3 separate regions of the Homo sapiens genome follow, and regions 2 and 3 are each linked to region 1. Evidence: fine-mapped QTL for protein levels in blood plasma. A gene starts in region 1. Each other region holds a variant in brackets. All regions are shown on one strand. Distances are from middle to middle.

The links. PIP is the posterior inclusion probability: the model's chance that the variant is causal. The UK Biobank Pharma Proteomics Project read protein levels with antibody pairs (Olink). The fine-mapping took linkage between variants from a reference panel, not from the people measured, so its PIPs are less certain.
Region 2: its variant is fine-mapped to the plasma level of the CTSE protein (UK Biobank, PIP above 0.99).
Region 3: its variant is fine-mapped to the plasma level of the CTSE protein (UK Biobank, PIP above 0.99).

Annotation. Positions count from the first base shown.
Region 1 is chr1:206,021,385-206,032,468 of GRCh38, reverse strand. It overlaps CTSE (cathepsin E), which reads left to right and starts at 8,574. Exons shown (of 9, transcript NM_001910.4): 1 at 8,574-8,745; 2 at 9,412-9,568; 3 at 10,202-10,319. The coding sequence starts at 8,678.
Region 2 is chr1:206,569,814-206,580,897 of GRCh38, reverse strand. All of the region lies in intron 2 of RASSF5 (Ras association domain family member 5), which reads right to left. It also overlaps a transcript of EIF2D not described here. Among named protein-coding and RNA genes, the nearest start is that of EIF2D, 37 kb to the left of the region's middle. RefSeq lists an enhancer at 4,991-5,040. The variant C/T (reference allele first, on the strand shown) is at 6,591.
Region 3 is chr1:205,856,509-205,867,592 of GRCh38, reverse strand. It overlaps PM20D1-AS1 (PM20D1 antisense RNA 1), which reads right to left and starts at 5,514. Exons shown (of 3, transcript NR_046097.1): 1 at 4,995-5,514. It overlaps LOC107985250 (a long non-coding RNA gene), which reads right to left. Exons shown (of 2, transcript XR_001738417.2): 1 at 10,014-11,084; 2 at 8,970-9,450. The variant G/A (reference allele first, on the strand shown) is at 4,801.

The DNA of each region.
Region 1 (11,084 bases):
CAGTAATGGGGTTTCATTTGGAGGCTCTCCTAAAAAAGAAGCTTGTTAAACCTGAAAGGAAGATCAGACGAGTGTCTCTGTGTCTTGGAACAGACGTAAATTTAATTGCATCTTTAATATGTGTTTTTCTTCTGTGGGTTTCCAGGGCACTTAATGGGCTGGGAACAAGACAAGAGTTTTTAGGAATGGAGACAAATTCACCTTAAACAAGAACCTGAGATTAAAGGTCTGCCTTTATTCTACCTAGCCACAGCCTAAATCCTTCCCTGATGGCTCTTGAGGAAGTTCCAGGATGGAAACTGATTCAGAAAGTCTGGCAGTCCTGGTACAGGAAATAAAACATTAAAGAAAGGAGCACTGCAGAGGGAGGCCCCTGTGACTATAAATCTAAAAAAGAAAACTCATGGAGACTAACGGAGGGAAGGAATCAGATTTATGGCATATTTGCTATGGTATACTCTCTCTTCTTATAATAAAATGTTAATTATTTATTAAGCTTTTACTGTGTGTCATGCATTTTCACATATGCTTTTATTTAATTTTCTAATAACTAACAACTCCATTTGGCAGATAAGGAAACTATGTATCAAAGAGTATATTTATTTTGTAGCCTTTCAGTAGTTGAGCCCCTAATCACAGAGTAAGAAGTGAGGACAGGTGGAAGCTTCAGCAACTGTCCTGAACAATTAAAATACACATCAGTGTGAATGACCTTCAGAATGTATTTCAGTCTGTTAATATACACAATAATATGTAAACTATACATGGCAGCTGAGAGTTGTGTTTAGGATCACAGATTCTTTTGAGACAGAGTCTTGCTCTGTCGCCCAGGCCGGAGTACAGTGGCACAATCTCAGCTCAATGCAACCTCCGCCTCCCAGGTTCAAGCGACTCTCATGCCTCGGCTTCCTGAGTAGCTGGGGCTACAGGTGCAAGCCACCATGCCTGGTTAATTTTTGTATTTTTAATAGATGGAGTTTTGCCATATTGGCCAGGCTGGTTTTGAACTCCTGAACTCAAGCAATCCACCCGCCTCAGCCTCCCAAAGTGCTGGGATTGCAGGCGTGAGCCACGGTGCCCAGCCAACATTACAGATTTTGTAGAGAGACTTCCTGAGCTTCAGCATGCTTAGTTCCATGATTACCTGCTGTGTGGCCTTGGACAAATTCCTTTCCCTGTCTGGGCCTATTTCCTATTACATTTAAAGCACTTAGAGCAGTGCATGGCATAAAGTGGAATTTAGCCAGGCTACCCGTAATGAGGGCTTACTTGATGTCAAGCACTGGGCTGTGTAATATATAGAAAGCACTCATCCTGAAGATGGTCTCATGGAATCTTCAGACCATTCTGCAAGGAAATCATTCTTTCTTTTCTGTAGTGAAGGAATCTGAAGCTGTGGCACATCCCCAATGTCATGCAATCATCTGTTAAGTTGCAGAGTTGGGAATTCAGACCTTGCTTTGTCTGCTTCCAAAGCCTGGGCTCAGTAACAAGCAAAGCAGATGGTGGTGTTAGTGTGCAGTCCTGCTTTTGCGCAAGCCCGAGGCATAAGCTGCTCTTCCTGCTTACAGGTACAGACACACATACTCTCCCGCCACAAAGACACACAGGCAGTATTCAAGTGAGAAACTTTCCCAGTGCCTGCGCCCTCTGCTGACTGTGCTGTAGCAATGGCTGGTCTGAAAGGCACTTTCCTGGAGTAGAATTGCTGGTGGTTTTGGAAATGACTCCAACAAATTGAATCCTTGACATTGGGAGATACTGAAGACATTGAATCTTTCTTATTTCCAGTTGCATGAAAACAAGAGGCTTTGACAAACCAAAGTATATTAAGACACATGGAAAAAGTAAGCTTTTAGTGCCAGGTGCTCTCTTTTGGCAATAAAAAAATGGTTTGAGCACCTTAAATTTTATTTTTTCAGAATGTGTCGAAGGTGGGGAGTTGGAGAAAGGTACATGTGGGAGTTTTTGCTCCTGTCGGCAATACAATAGTCTCCCTTGCTGAGAGACTCCTTGATGGCAAAATAGAAAATGTTTGAAAAATATGCAGTGAGAAGATATCTCATCATGCAGCTCCTCACCGACACACCCCACCATGCACACACCCATTTGTTCTTACAATAAAAGAAGGCCTCCAATTTTTACCATGCAAGAAATTATTCTCTGTCCCTCTCTTCTTTTCCTCTCTCCCATTCCTCGGTGCCTTTCTCTTCCAGAAAGAAATTTTAGAATGTCAGACCTCAAAGATGACCCAATACAATGCCACAGTTAAGAACACTGACTTCAAAGGCAAACCTGGGTTTGAATCCTGGTTTCAGCACCTTATGCAAGTTACTTAAACCCTCTGTGCCTCAATTACCTCATCTGTAAAATGGGCTTAAAAACAATACCTAGCTGATAGGATTGGTGAGAGATTTGAATGAACTAATGCTTGTAAGTCCCTTAGCTCAGAGCCTAGCACAGAGCTAATGCTTCCAAAGTATTCCTTGATATTGTCACCCAATCAAGCCTCTTCATTTTATAGGCAACAAAACTAGATTCAGAGAGAAGGGATTTATCTGCGATCATATGGCCAGTTAGTGGCAGAGCCAGGACTGGAGCCAGGCATCTCATCTCATCTCATCTCACCTGGTACAGACATCTTTCTACTGTACCACACACAGCATCGTGGATTTTCCCTCATTTCCTAACTTTAAGCAAAAGAGGTTGGGCCATTTCCCAGTTGGCCAGGTTTGTGCTGAACCAGCAATGTGTTGCAAGAGTCAGGCATCCTGGAGTGCATCCTGCGGTGCCGGCTCCCCTGTGAGCAGGAGCCAGCTCATGTCTGACAGTAACAGACTCTGTTCTAGGAGCTATCGAGCCCTGATAAAACTTATCCACAGAGCACTGAGCAACTGTCCTCTTATATTGTTATTATTTTATTTTGAGACATCTGTTGCCCTCTCAGGCTGGAGGGTAGTGGAGCAATCTGGGCTCACTGCAACCTCTGCCTCCCAGGTTCAAGAGATTCTCCCGCTTCAGCCTCCTGAGTAGCTGGGATTACAGGCACGTGCCACCATGCCTGGCTAATATTTGTATTTTTAGTAGAGACAAGGTTTCACTATGTTGGCCAGGCTGGTCTTGAACTCCTGACCTCAAGTGATCAGCCCACCTCAGCCTCCCAAATGTCCTCTTATTATTAATTTACTTTCTGGAAGCTGAAGCTCCAGAAAGAAGTTCACTAGATAGTGACACCACCACCAGCTTTCAAATGTTCTGGGAACAAAGTCTCTACATCCAGCCAGCCTCCAATCCACGTTCTTGAGCGTCTCTTTCTCTCCCCCCACCCCTCTCTCTCTCTCTCCAAAGACCCTCTCCTAATGCAGAGAGACCGGATCATTGACTATACTATGTGTCACTTTCCCCCACATCATACTATTTCACCTCAAATGCTCTTCTCTCTCCCTCTGCTCAAAGGACACACACAGACAACCACACATATGCCTAAGGTCTTTTGTTCTTTGGAAAGTGTTCAAATTGTCCACAGCAATATTTGGTTCTTGCTGGAAAAGGCCAGTAATCTACAGCCAGGGTAGGTTCAGTTCCTGGTGTCTCTGGAGAGGACAGATCCCATTAGCTCTGACAAACATCCCCAGTGTTCCTGCTCTTAACCTTTGTCAAATTTTCCAAAATCCAGCTAGACCCAGGGGCTCCTTGCAGGCAGTCGAGGCTGTGTCTGCTCCACTCAGTAGTCAGGTGGCCCACAGCTGCAAGGACCAGTCAGCTTTTTCTCAAGCCTGGGCCAGGCAAACTCTCTACATTTAGTAAACAGGGGCAAGAGGGATGCAGGGAGAGGTCTAAAAGATGGAAAAGGAGGGAGGGGTTATGGTTAGCCCCCTTTCAACAGTTCAGTGATAATGATGCTATAATTCTGTAGCAGAAAGTTTGCCCGCTTAGAAGTCAGGAGGGCTGAGTCCTAATCCTAGATCAGCCACTAAATGAACCATGTGCTCTTGGGCTGATCACTTTGCCTCTCTGCCTCAGTTTTCTCATTCTGCTATACAAGTGGGTTTGTCTTGAGAGTCTGTAAGAACCCTTCCAGCACTTCTGAAACACTGAAGTTTTTAGTGACAATCTTTAGTTCACATGACATGTTACAGTTTTTCAAGAACTTCCACATGCAAGCATCATTTGGAGCTACTGTGGGTTTGGTTCCAGACTACTGCAATAAAGTGAAAATTGCAATAAAGTCAATCACACAAGTTTTTTGGTTTCAAAATGCATGCAAAAGTTGTGTTTACCCTGTACTGTAGTCTATTAAGTGTGCAATAGCATTATGTCTAAAAACATCTTAATTAAAACATGCTTTATTGCTAAAAATGTTAACAATCATCTGAGCCTTCAGGGAGTCATAACCTTTTTGCTGGCGGAGGTCTTGCCTGGACATTAATGGCTGCTGACTGATCAAGGTGGTAGTTGCTCCAGGTTTGGGGTGGCCATGACAATTTCTTTCTTTCTTTCTTTCTTTTTTTTGAGATGGAGTTTCACTCTTGTTGCCCAGGCTGGAGTGCAGTGGCAGGATCTCGGCTCTCTGCAACCTCCGCCTCCCAGGTTCAATTAATACTCCTGCCTCAGCCTCCTGAGTAGCTGGCATTACAGGCATGCACCACCACACCCAGGTGTTTTGTATTTTTAGTAGAGATGGGGTTTCTCCATGTTGGTCAGGCTGGTCTCAAACTCCCGACCTCAGGTGATCTGCCCGCCTCGGCCTCCCAAAATACTGGGATTACAGGCACGAGCCACAGCGCCCAGTTCTTAAACTAAGAAAACAATGAAGTTTGCCACATAGATTGACTCTTCCTTTCTTGAAGATTTCCCTGTAGCATATGATGCTGTTTGATAGCATTTTACTCACAGTAGAACTTCTTTCAAAACTGGAGTAATCTTCTCAAACCCTACTACTGCTATCAACCAAGTTAATGCAATATTCATAATCTTTTGTTGGCATTTCAACAGTGTTCACAGCATCTTCACCAGGAATACATTCCATCTCAAGAAACCACATCCTTTACTCATCCATAAGAAGCAACTTCTCATCCATCCAAGTTTGATCATGAGGTTGCAGCAATTCAGTCACACCTTCAGGCTCCACTTCTAGTTCTCTTGCTATTCCCACCACATCTACAGTTACTTTCTCCACTGAAGTCTTGAACCCCTTAAAGTTATCCATGAGGATTGGAATCAACTTCTTCCAAACTCCTTTTAATTTTATAGTTTGATCTCCCATGAATCATGAATAATCATAATGGCATCTAGAATGGTAAATCCTTTCCGGAAGATTTCCATTTACTTTGCCCAGATCCATCAGAATCACTATCTATGGTGGCTATAGCTTTACAAAATGCATTTCTTAAATAATGAGACTTGAAAGTCAAAATTATTCCTTGATCCAGGGGCTGCAGAATGAATATTGGGTTAGCAGGCATAAAAACATTTATCTCCTTATAAATCTCCATCAGAGCTCTTTGGCAATGAGTTGCATTGTCAATGAGCAGTAAAATTTTGAAAAGAATTTTTTTTTTTCTGAGCAGTAGGTCTCAACAGCAAGCTTAAAATATCCAGTAAACCATGCTGTAAACCAATGTACTGTCATCCAGGGCTATGTTGTTCCACTGATACAGCACAAACAAACTCTATTTAGCATAGTTTTTTAGGGCCCTAGGATTTTCAGAATGGGCAAATGAGCATTGGCTTCAACTTAAAGTCACCAGCTGCATTATCCCCTAACAAAAGATTCAGCCTGTTCTTTGAAGATTTGAATCCAGGCATTGACTTCTCTCTAGTATGAAAGTCCTAGATGGTATCTTCTTCCAGTATGAGGCTATTTTGTCTATACTAAAAATCTGTTGTTCATTGTAGCCACCTTCATCAATGATCTTAGCTAGATCTTCTGGATAACTTGCTGCAGCTTCTGCTTTGGGACTTTCTGCTTCACCTTGCAGAAATCTCCATAGGCTTCACGTTTTCTTCTGCAGCTTCCTCACCTCTCTCTGCCTTCATAGAACTGAAGAGTGTTAGGGCCTTGCTCTGGATTTGGCTTTGACTTAAGGGAGTGTTGTCACTGCTTTGATCTTCTATCCAGACCAATAACACTTTCTCCATATCAGCAAGAAAACTATTTTGCTTTCTTATCATTTGTGTGTTCCCTGTAATATCACCTTCAATTTCCCTTAAGAACTTTTTCTTTGCATTCATGACTTGGGTAACTGTTTGGTGTAAGAGGTCTAGCTTTCAGCCCTTCTTGGCTTTCAACATGGCTTCCTCACTAGGCTTAATAATTTCTAGCTTTGAATTTAAAATGAGGAACATGCAAATCTTCCTCTCACTTAAACACTTAGAGGTCACTGTAGAATTATTAATTGGCCTAATTTCAATATTGTTGTGTCTCAGGCAACAGGAAGGCCCGAGGGGGAGAGAAAGAGAGGGAGAGAGAGAGATGGGGGAATGACCAGTTAGTAGAGCAATGGAGCAATCAGAACACACAATTACACTTATTAAATTCTCTGTCTTACACGGGTGCAGTTTGTGGTACCCCAAAACAATTACAACAGTAACATCAAAGATCACTGAGTACAGATCACCAAAACAGATAAAATAATCATGAAAAACTTTGAAATATTGCAAGAATTACCAAAATGTGGCACAGAGACACAAAATGAACACACAGTATTGGAAAAATGGTGCTGATAGACTTGCTTGACACAGGTTTGCCACAAACCTTCAATTAAAAAAAAAAAGCAGTATCTGCAAAGTGCAGTAAAGCAGAGTGCAGTACAACAAGTATATCTGTACCTTATTTTGTTTGTTTAATCCTCCTTAAAAACCCATTGATGTAGGTAAGGTATTTGGCAGATGACAAAACTAAGGTATGTGGTGAATAAGCAGTTACGGGCAAAACATGGCAGAGTTTACTGCCAAAATGAATGATCTCCACTTCTAGCCACTTCTGACTCAAGCTGCCCTTCTAGGTTTAGACCACTCTCCCCAGTGAAAGATCAACAAGACGGGCTCCTGGGAAATGCCAAAGAGGCTTTGTTGCCTTGGGTTCAGGGGTCAAAGGTCTAGGCTGTTCCTTAAGTCTTTTTGATGTCTTTTTTTAACATTTTTGGACCCAAGGGTGGGTTTGGCTTAGCTCCATACTCCACGTTTGCTTGCCATTTGAACTTCAGAGATGAAAGGCAGATCCCATAGCACTTAAGAGATTTTCCAGAACACTAGCTGGTCAGGGCAGAGCTAAACCTAAACGCAGGCCATCTACTTCCTACTGCTGAGCTAGTGCCCTCTGGAAGCATTGGCATATGGTGGTGGCCTCTGCTGCCCTGGCTAACTTGAGTCAGGGTCAGGGTCTTCCTACCTGTAACCCCTTCATCCCCACCCCAGGCACTGAAGCCCCACCATCTGTTTATGAGGCGGGTGGCCACAGAGATAGGCTGATGGTGAGGGGGTTTCACACACTGCGGTAACTAAGGCCTGAGCCCCACCCACTCTCCACCCCTGCGCTTAGTCCCACTTGACAGATAGAAGATCCTATTGTCCCTGAGCACTGTTAAGGGCTGAACTTTGTCCTCCAAAATCCATGTTGATGTCCTAACACCTAGTACCTCAGAACGTGACTGTATTTGGAGATAGGGTCTTTAAAGAGGTATTAAGGGTAAACGCAGTCATTAGGGTGGGCCCTACTCCAATATGACTAGCGTCCTTATAAGAAGAGGAAATGTGGATGTGGACACAGCCACACGCTGAGGGAAGACCCATGTGAAGACACAGAGAGAAGGCAGCCATCTGCAAGCCAAGGAGAGAGGCCTCCGAAGCAACCAAGTCTGCCAACACCTTGATCTTGGACTTCCAGCCTCCAGAATAGTGAGAAAATAAATTTCTGTTGTTTAAGCCCCCTGTACTTTGTCATGGCCGCTTTAGTAGACTCATGCGGGCACTTGCTGTAGACGCTGACCCCCTTGACCCTCCCTCGCTGCCCCTGCATTCTCCTCCACACACCCCTGAGCCCCAGCCCCAGATTCATCAAGTCCTTAGAGTCAGGAGAGTGGGCTCCATAAATCTGCAGCTACATTTTCCCATTTCAGGGCCTTTGAGGAGTGCTGGTTTGTGCTTCAAAGTGGGCCAGGGAAGGATAAACTGCCTTTGGAGCATTTGAGAGATTGAGGAGAGAACAGGAATCACCCAGAAAACAGACTGACGAATATTTTGAGTTAGAATCCTGCCACCCATGACAAGTCAGCTCCCACCCCTCCAGAGTCTCCAGCTAGAGCACTTGCAGTAAGAGTTCAGTGGGCCTTTCCAGGCAGCCAGGCATGTGCTGCCCTCCGGATTCATTAACAGGGTTTCTTGGGGTCAGAGGAGGTGCCAAAGCCCTGAGAGAAGCCAAGCCCCAGAGGACTCCCAAGTTCTCCCCGCAGACTCATATTCCTCTTGTAGGTGGGAAAGGGACGGAGAGGTGCAGGGGGAACGCCCTGTTCCACATGCCGTATTTACTCTGGGCATGGCTAATGACTCCAGGGCCTTATCATTCGGCCCTCAGACTGGGCTGGGCAGGTCTGAGAGTTAGGGAAAGTCCGTTCCCACTGCCCTCGGGGAGAGAAGAAAGGAGGGGGCAAGGGAGAAGCTGCTGGTCGGACTCACAATGAAAACGCTCCTTCTTTTGCTGCTGGTGCTCCTGGAGCTGGGAGAGGCCCAAGGATCCCTTCACAGGTGAGAAGACGTCCCCGCACTGTGTTCAGCTGGGTAGTCCCATGCCCTGCAACTCAGGGCTGCTCTGGGGTAGGAAAGCTGATGGGGAGGTGAAGAGGAGGAGAAGCTGAGGGCTTGCGTCAATGCATGGAAGAGACTCATCCAGTGACCGCCTGTGTATGGCCTTAATCTCCAGTCCTCAACAAGTCATCCTCCTGCCTCCACCTCCACGGAGGTGCCTTCCCAAGTCCCAGGGGTCTTCTTGTGTTGCAAAAGAGCAGGAACCTGCAGTTGTGGTTTGTAGCTCAAAGCGCCCCAGGACTTCCCCAGGGGACTGACCATCACTGTCCCCAAGAGTTTTTCTGTCCCTTTAAATCAGCCCTTCGTGATGTTCATGTAAAACTGTAGACCGCCCCACATCTCCCATTTTCCTAGATCTCAAAGACCTCAGCTCCAGGAGGGGAGCCATTTCCACTCTAAGATTCTAAGACTCTATAGGGCAGAGATGAGGCCGGGCAGGCTGAGTGGCAGAGAGGACGCTGATCCCACCTGTATCCTGCGTGCTGTCTTGCAGATCCCCCCCTCCCACCCCATCTTCTCTAGTTGGCCCCTGAGAAAATGGGACGAGAATGGGGGGAAGAGGGAGGCAGAAGTACATCTCCTGCTTACATGGGGGTTTGTCTCCAGGGTGCCCCTCAGGAGGCATCCGTCCCTCAAGAAGAAGCTGCGGGCACGGAGCCAGCTCTCTGAGTTCTGGAAATCCCATAATTTGGACATGATCCAGTTCACCGAGTCCTGCTCAATGGACCAGAGTGCCAAGGAACCCCTCATCAACTACTTGGATGTGAGGCCTCCTGGGGTCAGGGCTGGGGAGAGGTGGGAGCGGGAGGAAGGCCCAGCATTAGGGCATGGCCAGTGCCACATCAGTAGCACCGAAGGCCATTGTGGATTTCTTCACTTGGATGATGATCCATGGGGACTGATTCCCTGGGTCCCCATGGAGTTGGCTAAGCAGGCCCCCATGTACCCAAATGTCAGAGTTCTCTGCAGAAGGAAAGGGCTGGGAGTGAAAGCATCATCCCACACTGAAGGCCCCTGCTTCTGCTCTCAGCTGGGCAGCTTACTGGCTGTGTACCCTTAGGCAAGTTACTTAACCTCTCCCAGCCCCAGTTCCCTGGTCTGTAAAACAGATGGTTCTTCCTCCACTGCCTCTCCTACAATGTATTTATAAGAATCAGGTTAGTGCAAGTAAAATCAAATGAAGTAGCCAGAGGCTTGGTTTGATTTCCTCCTTCATGGCCATTTCTCTGCTCCTTTTACCTTTTATTTTCCAGCGTTGCCACTTCCTAGGCTCTGTAAACTCCAGTCTGTATTACCCCAGGCTCTGGCCCCTGGGAGCTTTCCCCTGGCTTCCTGGTGAGCACCCTTGTCCCTCCCCACCACCCACACCCTCTTTCCTTCTCACTCTTCCTTGCAGATGGAATACTTCGGCACTATCTCCATTGGCTCCCCACCACAGAACTTCACTGTCATCTTCGACACTGGCTCCTCCAACCTCTGGGTCCCCTCTGTGTACTGCACTAGCCCAGCCTGCAGTAAGTGGGGCCAGGAGCACCAGCAGAGAATGTCTGGGGGCTAGTCCTGGGAGGCCAAGCCTGGTACTCTGGGGAAGGGGGGCTTAGGTTCCAGAAACTGGCCATCCCTGCCACACCAGCTTCCACTCTCCATCTTTGAGTCAGCCGTGGAACTGCTTATAGCAGAGATAGAGCAAAGCCAAGGAAGAACTAAAATGTGGCTGCTGTCCAAGAGAGTAACTTTCATACTGATCAGAATTAATAGAAAGAAAGCCATTGAAAAGAGAAATCTTTGACATAATGACTCACTTCCTTTGGAACACCCAAAGGAATGTAGGGGAAGTTTAATTTAATTGGTTATTTCTGAGCAGGGAGGTGAGTCGGGTTCTAGTGTAGATAGTCTGCTTGTTTCAAGGAGGCTTGGTAGCCTTATCTCCTGGTGCACACAGGTGGGGCTGGTGGGGCACAATGGCATGGGTGGGTCCATTTGTCCAGAGGTAACTCAGAAGTTTCAGTGAGGATTGGAAAAGAAGAGCTACAGAAAGATGTCTTGTTCGATACAGGACAAGTCCCAGAGACAGAATGTCTCTGGAAACCCCAAGGCTAGAGATGTCCATCGGTTGGGAGAAAAGTTGGGAGTAATTTCCTGGGGCAATTGTTTATCCCTGAGTTTCTTTTGAAGCCAACCTCTGACCCACAATGGGTGGCAGGGACTGTGGCTGGCGCCTGATAAATGACACTTATCTTGGTGTGCCTCATGAGGTCATTGTGGACAATCAGGTTTGC
Region 2 (11,084 bases), 550 kb before region 1:
AGTCTAAGCAGCGGGTCAGGCCCCAGAGGCACCATGTCACCTGTGAAGGTGGGAAGGAAGGACTTCTAACTCAAGTGAGATGCAGCCACCAGGATGCAGGGCCCAGCCTTCTCCTGTGTGCCTTCCCAGGTCTCTGGAACTGAACCTTGATTCTGTTGCAGACCACCCAAGGGCAAGCAGCTCTGGCCATCTCCCACTTGCCGGAGGTGAGTAGCAAGTAGTGTGAGCCTCACAGACTCTCTTCATTCACTGTCAGTCCATTAACCCGGGGACTCTCACAGTGAAGCCTCTCATTTTCCTCATCCCTTCCCTTGGGTAGCTCCCAGAGCTCCCCATCCTCAGTCCTTGCCAGCTGAGCACATGTCTATGGGACCAGATGTGCCTGACCCTGGCCCTACCCCTATACCTTCCCGCTGGGAGCTTCTAATTAGAAAGACCCCGTTGTCTGGTTACTATTATACACTCACTCTGTCTCTGACGCATGTAGGCTATTGCTCCTCAGGAGGTAATAGCTTTCTCATACTTGTCTATAAAAAATAAGTAATGGAAAGAAAATTCTAGAAGCTTCGGAAAGATCTCCTCTCATAGTTTCCAATCAAGCTAGAGCCATTTCCCCGTAAGAAAAGGCAGCTGTGCTGTGGCTTTCAAAGGCTTGATTTTGAATACAGTGAGAAGCAAAGCTGCCTTAGCCTAGGGTTTCTTCTTCCTGTTCCCCTTTCTTCAGCAGATAGACCCATCTATCTCTCCCCTTCCCACCACAAACGCGGGGAAGTGACGCAAGTGGCCACAGGCACCTCTGCCTTCCAGGGCTGACTCAAAAGACAGCAGCCCTGACCTCACCATTCTGAGGCCTGGCCCTCTGGCTGGTGATGGGAAGCCCTGTCTGGGAGTGCCAGGAGCCCCGTGTGTAGCCAACACTACGAATGTCACAGCCATGGAATGCCAGCACCCAGGTCTGGGATGGCTGCTGCCCACAAAAATATCTGGCAGACAAGATGTGACCCATGGACCAAATGAATCACCTCCTGAATTAGGCCAGCCAGCCACAGCCACGAGGGCTCACGGATCCTTTTTCCACCCAAGAGATGGCGTATAATCCAGACCAGTGGTTCTTAAACTTGTCTGCACAGTGCAATCATCTGGGGGATCTTTAGAAACTTAGCTGCCTGGGCTTCATCCCTGGAGATTCTGATTTAATTGGTCTGGGGTGCAGTCTGGGCATGGGAATTTTAAAAATCTCCTAGTTGATTTTAATTCGCAGCAACATTCGAAAAGAACTGAAATAGACAGACCCCTCACAACAATTCCAGACCTCAAGGGTCTTCATCCAGCTGCTGAATTAACACTTGGTGCCAAGAAACACACAAACACCCCAAAGGTTTACCTAACAGGCACTATCTGCCATGAGAGCGAGATCGATACTATAGCAATCTTCAGAGGATAAGACAAAGACTCTGATTCCTATTCACCTGCCAGATTCTTAAGGATCTGTCCACGGGTACAAAGCGAGAAACCAAGCAGACAGTTTTGCCTCTTGGGGTGGCCCAAGATAGAGACAGAATAGGGAACTCTGTTATGATTTAACAAATATAGACATTGGCATGTGAGGTGTCTCTCCTGGGGGCTCACACATCTCAGTGCATCTGGCATGGAATTCATCTATTCCGATTAAGCCCCTGGCATTGGTGGCAGATGGCTGAGCTGTTCCCAATGCACTTGGCATGTCCAGGGCACTGGTGAAAAACAGGTTTGTGCTCACATGTCCTATGCGGTGGAAAAGGGCAATGTCTTCTTTTAGCTCTGGAGGTGATTGGGGAACAGCCATGTAAAGAGGCTGGGTGCTAGGGGTTCACAGCGACACCCCGACCCTGAGTGATTCTCTAATGCTTCCATTTAAATATTCTTAACAAAATAAGGAGGACCATACCCCTTTCGTCTGGGGCCTAACTCAGGGCAGATTTGCCCTAAGCTGTTTTTCTTTATTTTATCACTAAAGCAACAGCAACAAAACCCTACTTCTGCACTCTAATCAATGACATATGTAATCTTAATTTTGGTGACTGGAGAGTGACCTAATGCCCTAAGGAGAGGCTCTGAGTGAGTCACGTGGCTTCTGGTATTCCCAGGTGGGCCCAGGGCACCCAGGAATGCTGTGGCAATGAGAGGGGGTCCCCAGGATGAGGGTGGGCTGAGGAGGACGTGTGTCCCACCGGCAGTACTGCAGCTATTATATACATCCGTGCCTACTTTTTCTTGACCAAAATCACAAACCTAATTTTTGCTAAAAAATTCACTCTCACTCTTTTTAAATTTGTCAGTCTTTCCTCCTTCTGGCCCACGATTTGAATCATCTCACACCTGTTTGCCCATCAGAAGTCACTTTATTTGTCAAGCTCTTCCTGATCACTCCAGCCCTGAATGATGACGATGATTCACTACAGCTAATATGTACCGTGCACTATTCTACTCACTTAGCATGTATTAGCTCATTTCATCATCACAGCAAATGTGTCACAAAAAATACTATTATGATGCTCATTTTACAGTCAAGGAAAGTGAGCCACAGGAAGGTTAAAGCTAACCTACATCTAAAGGCAACACTATACTATCTGGCACTTAAGTAAGCATCTACTTACACACACACACACACACACACACACACACTTTTTTTTTTTGAGATGTCTCCCTCTGTCACCCAGTCGAGAGTGCACTGGTGCAATCACAACTCACTGCAGCCTCGACCTCCTAGGCTCAAGCAATCCTCCTGCCTCAGCCTCCCATGTAGCTGGGACTACAAGCATGTGCCACACTCCTGGCTAATTTTTTTTATTTTTTTGTAGAAATGAGGTGCCTTGCTATGTTGCCCAGGCTGGTCTCAAACTCCTGGCCTCAAGCAATACTCTCACTTCAGCCTCACGAAGTGCCAGGATTACAGGTGTGACCCACCGCGCCTGGCTGCTTACATTAACCTCCAAGTAGACTCATCCATCTCAGGTCTTCTTCCCAACTAGACTAAAGCTCTTTAATGACTTACATCATACTTCAATTTGTTCTCTGTGCCTGGTGCCTCTGAGCATGAGGCAAATAGGAAATACTTGCTCAAGAACCTTCAATGATCCCCTATTGCCTACAGTGGACAAAAAAGGTCTTAATTTCTTCTAGGAATTACAGTGCAGTGAGCCTTGGATTTCCATTTAGACTGAGTTCTGTGAGAGAAGCACCCACGCCTGTCTTGTCCTCTATGGTGTCCCAGATCCCAGTGCCAGCTTGACACATAGTAGGGGTTAAGTACCTGCAGGATGAACACAAGTGTGTGTTGGGCTTCTGACTCCCATGACTAACTACATGATCTTGAGAAAGTCAGATAATCTCTAAGCCTCAGTTTCTTCATCTATACATTTGGGATAAAAATCCCTTATTGTCTCACAGGATTGATGTGAAGGTAAAAATCAAATGAGATAATGGGTACAAAAGTGTTCTGAAAATCACCAAACCCATTCAAAGGCATGTATGGTGACTATCATCCCAGGAAAGCAAAGTTCTACCCCTCTGAGCCAATTTCAGTTTTCATTTTCCTTGAGTCCTTCTTCTGATTGGCCACATGCCCATAGAGTTTGTTAATTCCTTTCTCTGCACCAGTGGTTGGCAAACTTTTTCTGTAAAGGGTCAGACAGTAAATGTTAGGTTTTGCAGGCCACGCAGTCTGTTGCCACTATTCAACTCTACTATTGTGGCACAAAAGCAGCTACTGGATGAGTGTGACTGGGTTCCAGTAAAACTATTTATGGGCCTGGCATGGTGGCTCACACCTACAATCCCAGCACTTTGAGAGGCCAAGGCAGGATGATCGCTTGAGCCCAGGAGTTCGAGACCAGTCTGGGCAACATAGTGAGACCCTGTCTCTACAAAAAAAAAAAAATACAAAAATTAGCTGGGCACAGTGAAGTGCACCTGTAGTGCCAGCTACTCAGGAGGCTGAGGTGGGAGAATGACCTGAGCCCCCAGGAGTTCAAGGCTGCAGTGAGCCGTGATTGTGCCACTGCACTCCAGCCTAGGTGACAGAGCAAGACCCTGTCTCAAAAACAAAACAAACTTTATTTATGGAACCTGGCCATGTGCAGTAGTTTGCTCTATGCTGTTGTTTGTGCAGAGTCTCCTGCCTAGAACACTATTAGCCCTAGTTCCACCTTCTCTATGTAGTTTCCCAATGCAATTTCTCCAGTCTATAGCCATCTCTCCATCCTCTGCTCTCTTAATGTACCAGATCCCTGGCATTTTGATTCCCACATGGAGAAAGGTAATCACAGTTTTGTCCTGGTCTCTCTTTCTCCTGAATCATACTTCCTATGTTTCCTGTGTATTTCCTCACACCACCAGTTAATGGGCCTTTGTAACTTCACTCTCATTTCATGGACACTTTTCACAAGAAGACAAAGGCTTGGGCACTTCCTTGGATTTTGCTCACTTTACTCCATTCTGCAATGAGGAGGCAACAAAGCTGGCTGGGGTAGGGATGGAGGTAGACAGCTAGGCTCACCCCCTGGTTCTGTGACTCGCTCCCAAACACCAGCCCCATGGCCTCAAAGCCTCAGATTCCCATTGCAGCAAAAGTACAAATTACCATCGTCACAGATCTCTGCAGCTGCTGGCTAATGTTAAATCCATACTGCAAGAGCCTATAGAGGTGATTTCAGAGCCTGTGTGGCTACAGCTGGCATCTAATTATATGCTGCCTTTTATTGTTTAATGATTGTTTCACATGTTAATCCCATCTCCCCAGTGAGATGCTCTCTGGATGGAGGCAGACATTAGTTTGGTGCCTAAGCTTTTTGGCACCCCGCTTGGCTGAAACCTGGGCCAAACTTTAAGTAGGTGTCAGATAAATACCTGTTGATTGGGTGGCAGGGGAGGGCAAGACAGCCTGGGGAGTCTCAGGCCAGAGCCCACCCCAGACCCCTAGGTCCAGGAGCACCTCACACTCAGCTGCACCCTGAGGGTCTGATACCAAGAACACACACCAGGCTTTGGACTTTGGCGTTAGCCGTGTGGCTCAGCTCTTGGCAGCTAGCTGATGAGAACAAATGCAAGACCATCAAATGACCTGTGACGTCTGGGGAGCTACTTCCCCTCTCAGGGCCTCAGTTTCCTTATCTGTGAAATCATGAAGTGATACTGGAGAAGCTCTAAGGGCCCCTTCGCAGGACTAAGATTTTACACATAAGATAGGGTGGTGTTTTTTTCTCATCATTGCTTCCTCTTCTATTTCAGAGAATTGGGTGTGGAGATGGGGGCCTCTTGGAGGCTAGCTAGCATGGCTGAATGGCAGCAGGAATAACCAATCTAAAGGAGCACAAAGAACATTTCTAACCGCCACGACTTTACTTTTTCACTGCTCACCACTTTTCTCTATTGTCAGCAAGACTCTATCTTAGCCAAGCCCAAGCCGGTCTACGCATTCTTAACACACACAACTCAAGAAAACAAAACAAAAAATACCCCGGAAGCCATTCACCATGAGCCTTTGCCACATTTCCTCTTTCTCAGCTCTTAGCAAATCTGTCAGCAGCAATTCTTTCACCCCTTGGAAGGAAGCCATCTCCAGGCTTAAGTCAGGGAGGAAAGCCTCAGGCCCCTCCTACAGGAGAATGTCCATCTGCAGCTGCCTTCCACACCCCAAACACCCGGTGCTTCTGTTGTGCTTGCCCTAGATGGGAACGTCTGCAGGCAAGGGGCAGACACCCATCTATCTGGGCTGGATTTGAAATACCCTGCTCAATGTCCAAACCGCATTCAAAGGTGAGGTTAGGAGTTCAAGACCAGCCTGGGCAACATAATGAAACCCTGTCTCTTCTAAAAAAAAAAACAAAAACAAAAACAAAAAAATTATCCGTGCGCCTGTAATCCCAACTACTCGGGAGGCTAAGGCGGAAGAATCGCTTGAACCTGGGAGGCAGAGGTTGCATTGAGCCAAGATTGCGCCACTGCACTCCAGCCTGGATGACAGAGCGAGACTCCATCTCAAAAAAAAAAAAAAAAAAAAAAAAGTCATTGGTCCCTTTGTGATGGTCTCAACCAAATGAGAAAGAGGAATCCCTATGGGGCCTTACTGCAGGGCCCCCTCCCAGGTCTTCGAAGGCCTGTGTTCTGAAATGGACTCCACAGACCCACCACAGCAGTGAAGGGGTTGATTTCCACAGGTCCCTCTATGGCACTGTCCATTGTCCCAAAATTAAAAGGGTTGGGAACTCCTTAACTGTGTTCCCTAATAGGTTATTTGCAGCAGAGCAGGGAAGGGGCTTTATCATGGAGCTTCTGCTCCATGTGGAATTTGAGCAGCTCTGGTAGGGTGTATTAACAGAGCAGAGGGAAAAAAGAGGTGGCGGGTGGAGGTTGAGAATGGAAAGAGACTCAAGTCTCCAAAGACAAAAACGTAGAGCAGATGGTCAATGTCAACAGTCCGCCAGTAGTAACTGAATGAACTGCCTATGGGTGAGGATCGTGAAAGGCACCTTGAGAGATGACGCAGATGGGATGTGACCCTGTCCTTGGGAGTCTGCAGGTGACCTGAGAAGGGAAGACAGAGATGGATG[C/T]GCTGTGGCACACCAGAGCAAGTACAGTGTGATCTGGGACAAAAAGCCTCAAGCAGCACAGATCAGGCCACTCCCGCAGACTCCTCAGGTTGCCAGCATGCCCCAGAGTCTGGACACGGGGTCCCCTGCTCTTTGAGGTGACCATCTCAGTCTCTGCACAGCTCAGCTAGAGTGGGTTATACCAGGGAACAGTAGCTCCCTTACAGGGACCTAAGTTCAAGCCCCTGCAGAGCCTCATTATAATATTAAAAACCGACAGTAGTCAGGCACTGCCCTGAAGGGTTCAAGGTCCTGATCTCATTTAATCCCCTAAATAACAAGAAAGATGCTGTTACTCTTCACCATTAGACCATGCTGCCTTGCACGCTGGGCCACAGGTGGCCTGTGCTGGCCATGCCCTTGGTCTTCTGTGAACTTGATCAAGTCCACCTCACTAAGACTCCGATTTCTATTTTGTTTTTTTAAGAGATGGGGCTCTCACTATATTGCCCAGGCTGGTCTCAAACTCCTGGCCTCAAGTGATCCTCCCGCTTTGGCCTCCCAAAATGCTGGGATTACAGGCGTGAGCCACTACGCCTGGCTACTTATATTAACTTCCAAGTAGACCATCCATCTCGGGTCTTCTTCCCAACTAGACTGAAGCTCTTTAATGACTTACATCCACTGCTACTACTTCTCTATGCCTGGTGGCTCTGAACATGAGGCAAATAGGAAATACTTGCTCAATACTTGCTTCAGTGGTTCTTGAGGTCTTAATTTCTCCTAGGAATTACAGTGCAGTAGTGAGCCTTGGATTTCCATTTATACTGAGTTCCGTGAGAGAAGCACCCGTGCCTGTCTTGCCCTCTATGGCGTCCCAGATCCCAGTGCCAGCTTGACACATAGCAGAGATTCAGTAAATACCTGCAGGATGAACATGAGTGTGTATTTGGCTTCTGACTCCTATTACTCACTACATGGTCTTGAGAAAGTCAGAAAATCTATATGCCTCAGTTTCTTCATCTATAAATTTGGGATAAAAATCCTTTATTGCCTCACGGGATTGATGTGAAGGTAAAAAATCAAGCAGTCCGCCCACCTCGGCCTCCAAAAGTGCTGGGATTACAGGCATGAGCCACCACACGGAGACTGATTTCTTTGTGAAATGCAGTTTATACATTTGTTGTGAAGATGAAATGAGATCTCAGGCCTCAAAGTGCTTAGCACAAAGTACACAGTAAGCACTCCATAAATGTTAGCTAGTGCGTCATCATCCAAATTATCATCATCACCATCATCATCATGATCATGATCATCATCATCTTCAGTAGTCATTTGTCCAAATTTTTCCATTATCATCTTCAGTAGTCATTTGACCAAAGCTTGGTCAGTGGGGACCCAATATGGGACCTTGATTCCCGATAGGCCCTTCAGCCAAGGCCACATTATGACTTTCATGGGTCCTAAGAACTTTTGTCTTTGGGGCCAAGGGCCCCTTCCTCCATTAAAAAAAACCCACTGAAAATTATATTCTATGATTGCATCGGTATAAAGACAAATACATCAATATCCTATATTAAAACACTTTCTTCAACCTAAATGTTCATTTTTTTTCTCATGATTTTAAAGAAATTAAAACGTTTTTGTGGACCTCTAAAGTCGTGTGTGCCTGTGGCACGATGCCTGCTGTGCCTCATGGAGAAGTGACCATACTTTCCAGCTGTTCAGTCCCAGGTAGGGCGACTGACTGTCCCAGTGTGCTGGGGCTGAGGGTTTTCTCGGGATGCAGGGCTTTCAATGCTAAAACCAGGACAGTCCGGGGGAACCAGTGCATTTGGTTACCCTAGCCCCAGGTCTGGACAGACTCCCTTCCTCTCTGCTGCATCCCAGGGGCACCATGTGCTCTTCTGTAAAGCTGTGCCCATGTACTCAATTCTGGAGGTTTTTCTGATATCCACAGCCACTCCAAGGCCAGGCTGTGGCCTAGGACACAACTGTGTGGGCTATCTCGGAAGAAGCTCCCTCAAGGCAGGGTCTTTGGCTTGTTCACTGAGGCGGCTCCCAGAACAGTGTCAGGCACACAATAGGGGTTCATTAAACATTGGCTTCATGCGTTGAAGAAAACACAAAGAAGCAGTAACACGCATGCACCCTAAACCCCAAAATAAATGTAAGGTAATTAAAAGGTTCCAGAATTTTATAAAGGTCTTGTAGGATTGCTGGTCCATGGACCCATTTACTTCTGAGACTACTGAACACCAGATGAGAATTCTGTCCTCTGCTTCTGAAAATAGATGACCCAAATCCTTTCCATTTCTGTTCTCCCCTGCTCCAGGTCTTCATGAAGCCCCCTTTTTAGCTCAGAGGTCTAAAGTTTGAACCAGACAGAAGAGGGTGACACTCAATCTTCTGAGATGGCCACAGGAATTTTCCCTTGGGACATCTTATGCCCTCAGGAGTTTCTAGAAGGTCTTCCTTTGGGTGTTTTCCTCCTTGGATTTCCAGCTAGGTCCCTGTCCCCTCACCCAGCCTCACCTAGGTCAGCGTCCTTTCAGTCTCCCTGAGCCCTTCATCTGACCATTCTGCCTGAAAAGTCCTCCCTTCTCTACATCTGACAGAATTGGCCTCCTGCCCCTGGAACTGACAGTGTCTTTTGGGATACCCACTCTTATCTAGAATTAGTGGATTTTCCAACAACATCAGCATATGCCCAATTATTCCAGCATTGCTTTGACTCTCTGTACGTTAGTGTTAGTGGTACAAGCCTGTGTCCCTCATTAGACTATGAGCACACCACAGTCAGTGACTGTACCTTTTCCATCTTTGTATTCCCAGACCACCCTGAACCAGAGTACTGCAGAGTTAATTAAGGATGGACGGTGGGTAGGTGAGTGAGTGGATCCCAATACCCCATCCCAGGCCAACTCTCTCCTAAGCTCTCTCAGTTCTTTCAGGCCAATTTAGAGAGTATTCCTTTGCAAATGATATATGCCATAAGGGATTGATATGCAGAATATATAAACTACCACAATACAAAAAAAAAAACCTGATGAAAAAATAGACAATGGACATGAACAGATATTTCTCTAAAGAAGATCTATATATGATCTACAAACACATGAAAAAATGCTCAATATCACTAATCATTAGGGCAATGCAAATCAAAACCACAGTGAGATACCATTTCATGCATATCAGGATGCTTATTAATAAAAACAATAAACAAGAAAATAACAAGCATTGGCATGGATGCAGGGAAACTGCAGCCCTGTGCATTGCTGGTGGGATTGTAAAATAATGCAGTCACTGTGGAAAATGGTATGGTGATCCTCAAAAATTAAACAGAATTACCATGTGATCCAGCAATTACACTTCTGGGTATACACCCAGAAGATGTGAGAGCAAGGACTCAAATATCAGAAAACCAGTATTTGAACACCCAGGTTTGCAGCGGCACGATTCACAGTAGCCAAAAAAGGTGGAAGCAACCCAAGGGTCCATTGATGGATGAAACCCAAGTGTCCACTGATGGATGAATAAACAAAAAATGTGTTGTGTCCATACAATGGAATCTCATTCAGCCTTGAAAGGGAAGGAAATTCTGACACATGCTATCACGTGGATGAACCTTGAAAACATTAAGCTAAGTGAAATAAGCCAGTCACAAAAGGATTAATACTGTGTGATTCTACTTATATGAAGTTCCTAGAATAGTCAAATTAATAGAGACAGAAAGTAGAATGGTGGTTGCCAGGGGTGGGGGGAGGGGAAAATAGTGAGTTACTGTTTAATTGGTAGGGAGTTACTGTTTAATTGGTAAGGAGTTTCAGTTGGGGAAAACAAAAGTTCTGGAAATGGATGGTCGTGATGGTTGTACAACAATGTGAGGTTATACTTAACGTCACTGCACTATGCACTTAAGAATGGTACATTTTGGCTGGGTGCAGTGGCTCACACCTGTAATCCCAGAACTTAGGGAGGCCGAGGCAGGAAGATCTCTTGAGGCCCAGAGTCTGAGACCATCCTGACCAACATGGTGAAACCCTGTTTCTACTAAAAATACAAAAAAATTAGCCAAGCGTGGTGGTCCATGCCTGTAGTGCCAGCTACTCGGGAGGCTGAGGCAGGAGAATCACTTGAACCTGGGAGGCAGAGGTTACAGTGAGCCAATATTGCACCACTACACTCCAGCCTGGGTGACAGATTTGAGACTCTGTCTTGGGGAAAAAAAAAAAAAAAAAAAAAAAAAAGGTAAATTTTATGTTATGTGTATTTTACCACAATAAAAAATAAAAAGGGCAGGGGAAACCTGGAGGCCATGTCACTGGCTGGTTTTATCTGTTTCCCATAGAGTTGGGAGCTTCCCTTACTTTCTGTATTCCAAGCGAGGAGTCAATGCCACATCTAAGCAACTGGGCCTCCATCACGCCAAGCCCTCCAAGACCAGGCTCTTTTCCTAGGACTAGGCCACTCTCCTGGGATGCAAAATGAACACAAAAAATGACCTGGACAGCC
Region 3 (11,084 bases), 160 kb after region 1:
CCAATGACCTTGTGCTTTACCGAGAGACTGCCAACTTAGTTGCAGACATCACCTCCTTAGCCAAATATCAACAAGTTCTTAAAACACTACAGGGAACCTGTCCCCGAGAGGAGGGAAAGGAATTATTCCACCCCGGTGACATGGTATTAGTCAAGTCCCTTCCTTCTAATTCCCCATCCCTAGACACATCCTGGGATGGACACTACCCAGTCATTTTATCTACCCCAACCACAGTTAAAGTGGTTGGAGTGGAGTCTTGGATACATCACACTTGAGTCAAACCCTGGATACTGCCAAAGGAACCTGAAAATCCAGGAGACAATGCTAGCTATTCTTGTGAACCTCTAGAGGATCTGCGCCTGCTCTTCAAGCAACAACCGTGAGGAAAGTAACTAGAATCATAGATCCCCATGACCCTCCCTTGTCATATTTTTCTTTTTACTGTTCTCTTACCCTCTTTCATGCTCACTGCACCTCCTCTATGCCGCTGTACTACCAGTAGTTCCCCTTACCAAGAGCTTCTATGGAGAATGCGGCTTCCCGGAAATATTGATGCCCCATTGTATAGGAGTTTTTCTAAAGGAAACCCCACTTTCACCACCCACACCCATATGCCCCTGCACTTCAGGCCATACATTTCAATCCGTGTATCTTTAACCTCCTTGTTAAGTTTGTCTCTTCCAGAATCGAAGCTGTAAAACTACAAATGGTTCTTCAAATGGAGCCCCAGATACAGTCCATGACTAAGATCTACTGCAGACCCCTGGACCAGCCTACTAGCCCATGCTCCGATGTTGATGACATCAAAGGCACCCCTCCTGAGGAACTCTCAACTGCACGACCCCTACTACACCCAAATTCAGCAGGAAGCAGAGCAGTCATCAGCCAACCTCCCCAACAGCACTTGGGTTTTCCTGTTGAGAGGGGGACTGAGAGACAGGACTAGCTGGACTTCCTAGGCCAACTAAGAATTCCTAAGCCTAGCTGGAGAAGGTGATCACACCCACCTTTAAGCACTGGGCTTGTAACTCAGCTCACACCCGACCAATCAGGTAGTAAAGAGGGCTCACTAAAATACAAATTAGACTAAAAGCAGGAGGTAAAGAAATAGTCAAATCATCTATCATCTGAGAGCACAGGGGGAGCAAAAATGATTTGGATATAAACCCCAGGTATTCGAGCCAGGAGTGGGCAACCCCCTTTGGGTCCCCTCCTTTTGTATGGGAGCTCTGTTTTCACTCTATTAAATCTTGCAACTGCAAAATAAAAAATTTTAAAAAGTGCACCAAAAATATGTAAAATATCTTATATCAATAAAAAATAAAATAAAATAAAAACTTTTGGAAAGCAAAATTATGGCTAGATAAGAGGAAAAAGTACTAGTATTTGATACCAAGGATCCCCAACCCCTGGGCCACAGACTGGTACTGGTATGTGGCCTGTTAGGAACCAGACCACACAGCAGGAGGTGAGCAGCAGGTGAGTGAGCAGCCCCCTGTCAGATCAGTGGGGTCATGAGATTCTCGTAGGAGTGCGAACCCTATAGTGAACTGTGCATGCAAGAGATCTAGGTTGCATGCTGCTTGTAAGAATCTAACTGATGATCTAAGGTGAAACCGTTTCACCCCGAAACCATTCCCCCTCCCCCACCCATTTTTGTCTTCCACCAGACTGGTCCCTGGTGCCAACAAGGTTGGAGACCACTGTTCTATAGCACTGTAGGAAGACTATAGTTAACAATAACGCGTTATATAGTTTCAAGTAACTAAAAGGAAGCTATTGAACGTTCCCAACACTAAGAAATGACAAATGTTTGAGATTATTGATATGCTAATATCCCTGATCTGATCACTATATATTATATGTATCAAAACATCACTATGTGGCCGGGCACGGTGGCTCACGCCTATAAACCCAGCACTTTGGGAGGCCAAGGCAGGCGGATCACTTGAGGTCAGGAGTTCAAGGCCAGCCTGGGCAACTTTGTGAAAATCTCTGCTGAAAACACAAAAGTTAGCCAGGTGTGGTGGTGTGTGCCTGTAGTCCCAGCCACTTGGGAGAATGAGGCAGGAGAATCGCTTGAACCTGGGAGGCAGAGGTTGCAGTGAGCTGAGATTGCACCACTGCACTCCAGCCTGGGTGACAGAGGGAGACTCTGTCTCAAAAAAAAAAAAAAAAAAAAGAATAATACTCTCCAACTCCATCCAGGTTGCTGCTAATGCCATTATTCTGTTCCTTTTTATGCCTAAGTAGTATTCCATGGTGTGTGTGTGTGGGTATAATATATATATATTACATTTTCTTTATCCACTCATTGCTTGATGGGCATTTAGACTGGTTCCATATTTTTGCAATTGCGAATTGTGCCACTATAAACATGCGTGTGCAAATGCCTTTTTCATATAATGACTTATTTTCCTCTGGGTAGATACCCAGGAGTGGGATTGCTGGATAGAATGGTAGATCTACTTTTCATTCTTTAAGTAATCTCCATACTGATTTCCATAGTGGTTGAACTAGTTTACATTCCTACCAGCCATATAAAAGTGATCCCTTTTCACCACATCCATGCCAACATCTGTGTTTTTAAATTATGGCCATTCTTGCAAAAGTAAAATAGTATCTCCTTGTGGTTTAGATTTGCATTTCCCTAATAATTAGTGATGTTGAGCATTTTCTCATATGTTTGTTGGCCACTTGTATATCTTCTTATGAATTGTCTGTTCATGTCCTTTACCCACTTTTTAATGAAATTATGTGATTTTTTTCTTGCTGATTTACAGAACAAACACAATACAAGTGTTTTTTCTTGCTAATTGTTTGAATTCCTTGTAGATTCTGGATATTAGTCCATTGTCAGATACATAGCTTGCAAATATTTTCTCCCACCCTGTGGGTTGTCTGTTTGCTCTGCTGATTATTTCTTTTGCTATGCAGAAGCTTTTCAGCTTAATTAGGTCCCATCTATTTATCTTCCTTTTTATTGCATTTGCTTTTGGGTTCTTGGTCATGAACTTTTTGCCTAAACCAATGTCTAGAAGAGTTTTTCCAATGTTATTTTCTAGAATTGTTATGGTTTCAGGTCTTAGAGTTAAGACTTTGACCCATTTTGAGTTGATTTTTGTATAAAGTGAGAGACGAGGATCCAGCTTCATTTTTCTACATGTGGCTTGCCAATTATCCCTGCACTATTTGTGGAATAGGGTGTCCTTTCCCCACTTTATGTTTTTGTTTGCTTTGTCAGAGATCAGTTGGCTGTAAATATTTGGCTTTGTTTCTGGGTTCTCTATTCTGTTCCATTGGAACAGAACACATGCCTATTTTAATACCAGTACCATGCTTTATTGGTAACTATAGCTGGGCGCTTGTCTCCCTTTTCTTTTTTGCAAAACCGCCACAGCTATCATTGCTTGCTCTCAGTGGTGGCTTTCTCTCCAGAGGTGGCTTCCGCATCTACAGACTATATAAAGACAAACAACACAGATTAAAAGCACAATCATTGAAATCACAGAGCCTCCAAGTGTCTTGATCCATTTTAGCAGGTTAATAGCTGCTAATCCGTCTGTAGCTCCTTCAAGCACTTCAGTTCCTGGCATTAGTGTCAGATGTATCTGAGAGGCTTGAAATACTTGTTCCTTTAGCTTTGCAATATCCAAAGATAAATTTCTAGTATGACCTTTTAAATATCTCTTAACTTTTTCCCACTCATGCTCTGTTTCATTACACAGATGAGGAGTAATGCAAAAATCAGAGGTATTTCAATCACATTGTAACTGCATTCTATATTCTAAACTAACTATATGATCTCCTAGCCACATTACAGTTTGTTGGAGATCATTAATTTGATCAGCTAGTTTCTGGTCTATATTATTTTGGTAATTCCACAGCAGAGTAGAATTTTTCTACCAATTATTTACATAGTCTGCTGTTTGTACTGTGGAATGCAAAGCAACTCCAGCTACTGCAGCAGTAGCTGTGACAGCAATCAATCCCATAATAATGAAAATTAAAGTAGCAATGAAATGCCGTGAGTGCCTCAAAATCTTTTGAAGAATTTCAGTAATAATATGCACAGAAGGAGAGGCTTCCCAGGGATGGGAAAGCTTCTCAGGTATCCATACTCCTTCTTGGGCTCTTACCATTAAAATAGAATGATCAGTGTTATATAAGGAAGAATTCACACAAGAAGACAATCTACATTATTGACAAGTCACATGATGATTAAAGAGATCAAGTTTTAAATCACCCACTACAAACAGGAAAGGTGATGGACACAACTCTGTATCCAGACTGAATCATTGTGAGCCAATTTTAACATGTAATTAGGATTATATTGGGTTGGCTTAGTATATTTCCCTTTCCAAATCTTTATCATTTTTTAGTGCTGTTAATATTTTCCATAATTCCTTATGTTTTGCCCCTACAGCAGGCCATATCGTTTGGGGCTGAGGTACCACTATACCACCACATGCCCAAATAATAGGATCTCTTGCTGTACTTCTTATAGTGTCCACCATCTGATTATTTTGTTTAGATGCAGGGTGACCATTACTTACAGATTGAGAGGTGAGCCTCATAAATGCCCCTTTAGGGGACCAATCAATAATGACTCCATATGAATCATTATGCAACACCTCTGCTTTCCATGTGACACAATCTTCCCAAGCAAATGCCTTCATTTTTTCTGACCATGTCTAGTCCACTTTACAGATAGGTTTCTGAGGGTGGTAAACTTCAGTTACAGAAGCATAATCATGGTGATAAATACTAAGACCAGAAAGCATATGTAATTGTGCTATG[G/A]AGATGTTACGTTCAGGCACTATTGCCAGCCAAGATTGATGACTGGGAGGTGAACACCCATTAGCTTTTCCTAACCAAATAGGTAAATGCTTAAATCCCAATGAGACGTTCATAATTGTTCCTTCCTCTTGGGGGTGAGATGGGCCTCTATCATCAGTAGAACCAGGCATCCAAAAACTATCATTAGTGTATACCTCCATTGGTCTTCTCCTTTGTCTCTGAGATGTTCATTTGTACCATCACTCATATCAGGAGCTCTGGCTCTTCCCAGAGCCCTCTCTTCCTGGTGTGGCTCATGATAGATCTCCAGATGTTTGGTGGGCACCCACACAGGTGCCTGATTGTTACCTGGAGAGACACAAGAAAATCCTCTTCCCCATATAATTATCCGCCCTTTGATTAAATTTAGTTAAAGGGCCAGGGAAGTTAGTATGTGCTCTCATATGAGTGCATAGAAAGGGGAATGCCTTTGTTGTACTGCTTGCTGTAGAGAATGAAATAAAACATTAAGTTGGTCTTTAGTCACATTTTGAATTAAGGCATGTTCAATATTTTGTGTGGCTTGCACTACATAGGCTGAACCAGAAACAATGTTTACTGGCTATTTAAAAGTTTTTAACACTGTTATCACAGCCATAAGTTCAGCCCTTTGAGCAGAAGCAAAGTCAGTTTGAAAAACTTGTTGAGGTCCCACAAATGAGGCCTTTCCATTACTAGATCCATCAGTAAAAACAGTAATGGCCCTTTCAATAGGGGTTTTTTGAGTAATGGAAAGCAATATCCATGATGTCAATTTAAGAAATTGGAATATTTTGGATTTAGGATAATGATTATCAAGAACACCAGTAAAACCTGCCATATTAATTTGCCATTCCTGGGAATTAATATAAGCCTGCTGAATTTGTTGTTTGTCTAATGGAACTATAATTTTATTTGGATTATATCCCATTAACTTTGTTGTGCGCAGCCTTGCTTGTCCTACTAGTACAGCAATTTAAGTACAGAGTGAGCATTTTAGTTGTATTGTGAGGTAGAAAAAGCCACTCAACCAAAGCATCCTGTTGAACAATAACACCTGTTGGTGAATGTTTAGTAGGAAAAACTAAAAACTGTAATGGCTGCATAGGGTTAATTAGAGTCACTTGTGCCTATTGAATTTTTTCTTCAATTAATTGAAGTTCTTCTAATGCCTCTTTGGACAGGGACCATTTGCAGTTAAGATCAGAATCACCTCGTAAGGTAGAAAAGAGGTGAGACATAGCATAAGTAGGAATGCCTAAAGTAGGATGAATCCAATTAATGTCTTCTAATAATTTTTGAAAATCATTTAGAGTTTTTAAATTATCCCTTCTAATTTGAACTTTTTGAGGCTTAATAGTACTTTATTCTACTTTCATTCCTAAATATTGAAAGGGAGTAGAAGTTTGAATTTTATCGGGGGCTATGATTAACCCTGCTGCAGTCACAGCCTTTTCTAACTGTTTGTAACATAGCATTAACTCCTCTCTAGTTTCAGCTGCACATAAAATATTATCCATGTAATGTATGATATAACATTTTTAAAATTGTTCTCTAACTGGCTTAATAGCTTTTCCAACATAAGTTTGACAAATAGTCGGGCTATTTAACATGCCTTGTGGCAGTACTTTCCAATGGTATCTGTCCACTGGTTCTTTGTTATTTATAGCAGGAACAGTAAAAGCAAATTTTTCATAATCTTGGGCAACTAAAGGAATGGTAAAGAAGTGATCTTTTAAATCTGTCACTATGAGAGGCCAGTATTTTGGGATCATTGTTGGAGAAGGCAGCCCTGGTTGCAGTGCACCCATGGGTTGAATTACAGCATTGACAGTCCTCAAATCTATTAACATTCTCCATTCCCCTGATTTTTTCTTAATAACAAACACAGGAGAATTCCAAGGGGAGAGAGCAGGCTCTATGTGTCCCTTTTGCAATTGTTCTTGTATCAATTCTTTTAAAGCCTCCAGTTTTTCCTGTTTCAGCGGCCATTGCTCCACCCAAACCAGTTTGGCAGTTAACCAAACAAGAGGAATGGGACCCGGAGGCTCAGCAATGGCCACCCCTAAAAATGATACCCTAATCCAGTTGTATCTGTTTGCCCTTTTAGTTCTAAAGGTTCTGTTTGGCCATTTTCATTTTTTCCCAGTCCCTTCCCTGGGAGATATCCCATTTTTCTCATCATTTGATTACTGTTATCACTATACTGATCCATAGGAATAGATATTTCAGCACCCCATTGTTGTAATAAGTTTCTACCCCATAGATTTACAGGAATAGGTGTAATAATAGGTTGAATTGTCCCTTCTTGGCCATCTGGCCCCTGGCATGGCAAAATTAAAGAACTTTGAAAAATTTCTGAGGCAGCCCCTACTCCAACAATACCAATGGATGCCTTTTGTTTTGGTCAATGTTGGGGCCATTGATTTAAACCAATAATAGAAACATCAGCTCCAGTATGTACTAGCCCCTCAAAATCTTTTCCTTGAATGGTTACTGTACAAATAGGTCTTTTGTCAGACACTTGATTAACCCAATATATAGCTTTTCCTGCTGGGTTAGTACTACCAAAGCCTCCTGTTCCTTTTACTGTAGTACTTCCTAGCTTTGTATAAGGTAACAGTAACAACTGAGCAATTCTTTCCCCTGGGGAAGCAGACCATGGAATTGAGGAACTAATAACTAACTGAATCTCTCAGGTATAATCAGAATCAATTATTCCTGTATGTACAGTGACACTTCTTAAATTTAAACTAGACCTTCCAAGCAATAGACCAACTGTTCCTGAGGGTAAAGGGCCCCTAACTCCCATGAGGACCTTCTTTGGTGGCTCCCCAGGAAGTAAGGAAATGGGAACTGTGCTACAAAGATCTACACAGTACTGCCTGCTGTGGTGGGATACAATTGTTGTACTTTTGTAAGGGCACTGGCTGTGCCAGATATGCCTCAGTTTGTTGAGGGGCCCGAGGTGGGCCCCTCTTCCCGTTTCCCAAAAGAGGTTGCCCATCTTTGCTAAATTTAGGATGACACTGATTTGCCCAGTGATTGCCTTTCTTACACCAGGGGCATACACCGGAACTTTTCTGTTGATTGATGGTAATAGTTTTTGCCTTTTGATTTCCTTTTCTACATTCCTTTTTTTGTGTGTCCAAATTGCCCACAATTAAAACAAGAGCCTGAGAAATGGGGCATATTTTTTCCCACCTTTAATCCAGCCATAGCTTGAGCTAAAAGAGTAGCCTTATGTAAATTACCCGCAATGCCATCACAAGCCTTAATATATTCAGCCAAATGAGGCTTCCCTTGCATAGGTCTAATGGCAGCTTGACACTCTGCATTAGCATTATCATATGCAAGAAGTTGTATTACCATGTCTTGAGCTGTTTTATCAGTTACAGCTTTACGCACAGCCTCTTGGAGCTGAGCAATAAAGTCAGTATATGGTTCTTTAGGTCCTTGTCGGACAGAACATCCCGATGGCAACATCCTCCATTACTGCTTAATTGTCTAATCATCCCCAATTAGGGCCCAACTCCATTAACCATTCAAAGGAAACAAGCACAGGTGGCTGTGTTTGTGTGTTTTCTCTTGCCTGAGTTTGAGCTTCATCAGCCCACCAGGTTTTAAACTGCAGGTACTGAGATGGAGTGAGAACAGACTTTGTTAAAGTATCCCAGTCATATGGTATTAATCTATTATCAAGAGCCACATTTTTTAGTAAAGTTTGTACAAAAGGAGAATTTGGCCCATATTGACTAATGGCTTGCTTGAATTCCTTTAACAACTTAAAAGGAAAGGTGGTCCAATTAGTTATATTCTGTCCTCCTTGCTGGATTATAGTAATGGGAAATTGCCATGCATCTAGGTCTCCTTCAGCTCTAACCTTCTGAATAGAATTTTGTATAGCATCACCAATTCCTCCAGGTTTTAATGTTGCAGCTACCAGAGCAGTAAGTTTTGCAGCTAATTCATTTTCTCGACCATTAGGGGGAGAGGAAGGAAGTGGCCATTCACTTAATTCAGCAGGTGGAACCAACGGGCTACTAAAATATATCTGTTTTAGTTTTCCTTTCTTTAATTTCCTCTGGTTGCTGTTCCCCACATTCAGAATCTGAAGTTAATTTTTTACACTCGTTTTCCTCTTCCTTATCTGAATCTGCCTCATCATTTGTTTGAAATGGCTCAAGACCTGCCTTTATCAATGCCCACACTGACCAAAAAGAAACTGGAATTTTGGCTCCTTCTTTATGCACCTTTTTTAGATCTCTGCCAATTCTTTCCCATTCATCGAACTCCATTGTCCCTTGTTCTAGGAACCACAGGCAAAACTGCTCCACTGTACTAAAGAGTGTTAATAAATTCTGAGTACTAACTTTCACTCCCCCTCTCCATAATAAATGCCTTAGAAAGTTTAAACAAGCAGAATGTTTACTTTCATTTTGTCCCATTGTTACCTTGGTTCTTCAGAGTGCCCAGCTTACCCACCAAGCTTCTTTCAGCCATCCTCGGGTGTCCTTTGATGATATGTCCTTCATTTCCATATACTCTAGCATTTCTTTACCATGGTCTTCATAGCCCCACGTTGGGTGCCTGAAATTTTGGGGTGATCAGGCCCAACACCAGGCCATCAGGCTACAAAGTCCGGTGGGGTGAAAGAAATGAGAAAAGACAAGTTAAAAGTGCATAAATTGGGTCCAGGGGGCCAACACTAGATTGGAGGCTGCGAAGGCCCTGAGCTCTGGGAGCCCACACTATTTATTGGAGACCAAACAAAGAAGCAGATGGTGAGGACGTGCAGATGTGGGGGTAAAGAGGTGAGGGCATGAGGACGTGGGGGTAGAAAGGTAGTGGTGCATTAAGCGTAGCTGTGATGGTTTAGCATTTTCTTTGATGCATATAGAATATGCTCTGCTGCTTGAGATAATGGAGGACATGTTTACAAGTAAGAAGCAAGGAACCAACAAGTCTGTGCACATTCCAGAGGCTACAAGGGGGTTTATGCCCTGAGCCCCGGATTCCATACAAGCCACAAGGGGTTTTATGCCCTGGGCTTAGATTTTGGCATGTCAGGGCAGCCTTCCACCCTTTGGCATAGAGCTTGGTGTTCCAAAGGCCACGAAGGGTTTTAGACCCTGGACCCCAGACATCTTCCAAGACTCTTTTACATTATGACAGACAAGCTAGTCCTGCCTCACCTCTTCTACCAGCATTGTTGTATAGTTTGAAGTCTGGTAATGTGATGCCTCCAGATTTCTTCTTTTTGTTTAGTCTTGCTTTGGCTATGCAGGCTCATTTTTGGTTCCATATGAATTTTAATATTTGTTTTAGTTCTGTGAAGAATGATGATGGTATTTTGATGGGAATTGCATTGAATTTGTAGATTGCTTTTGGTAGTATGCTCATTTTCACAATATTGTTTCTACCCATTTGTGAGCATAGGATATGTTTCCATTTGTTTGTATCATCTATGATTTCTTTCAGCAGTTTTTTGTAGTTTTCCTTGTAGAGATCTTCCACCTCCTTGGTTAGGTATATTCCTAAGTATTTAATTTTGTTGCAGCTGTTGTAAAAGGGGTTGAGTTCTTGATTTGATTATTAGTTTGGTTGTTGGTGTTGTATAGCCGTACTCCTGATTTGTGTACATTGTTTTTGTATCCTGAAACTTTACTGAATTCATTTACCACATCTAGGAGCTTTCTGGATGGGTCTTTAGGGTCTTCTAGGTATACAATTATGTCATCATATCATGTCATTATATCAGTGAATAGTGACAGTTTGACTTTCTCTTTTGCAATTTGGATGTCCTTTATTTCTTTCTCTTGTCCGATTTCTCTGGCTAGGACTTCCAGTACAATATTGAGTAGCAGTGGTGAAAGTAAGAATCCTTTTCTTGTTCCAGTTCTCAGAGGGAATGCTTTCAACTTTTCTCCATTCACTATAATGTCAGCTGTGTGTTTGTCATAGATGGCTTTTATTACTTTGAGTTATGTCCCTTCTATGCTGACTTTGCTGGTGGCTTTCATCATAAAGTGATGCTGGATTTTGGCAAATGCTTTTTCTGCATCCATTGAGATGATCATATAATTTCTGTTCTTAATTCTGCTTATGTGATGTATTACATTTATTGACTTGTGTATGTTAAACCATCCATGCATTCCTGGCATGAAATCCACTTGATCATGGTGTATTATCTTTTTGATATGCTGTTGGGTTCAGTTAGCTAGTATTTTGTTGAGGATTTTCACATCTATGTTCACCAGGGATAT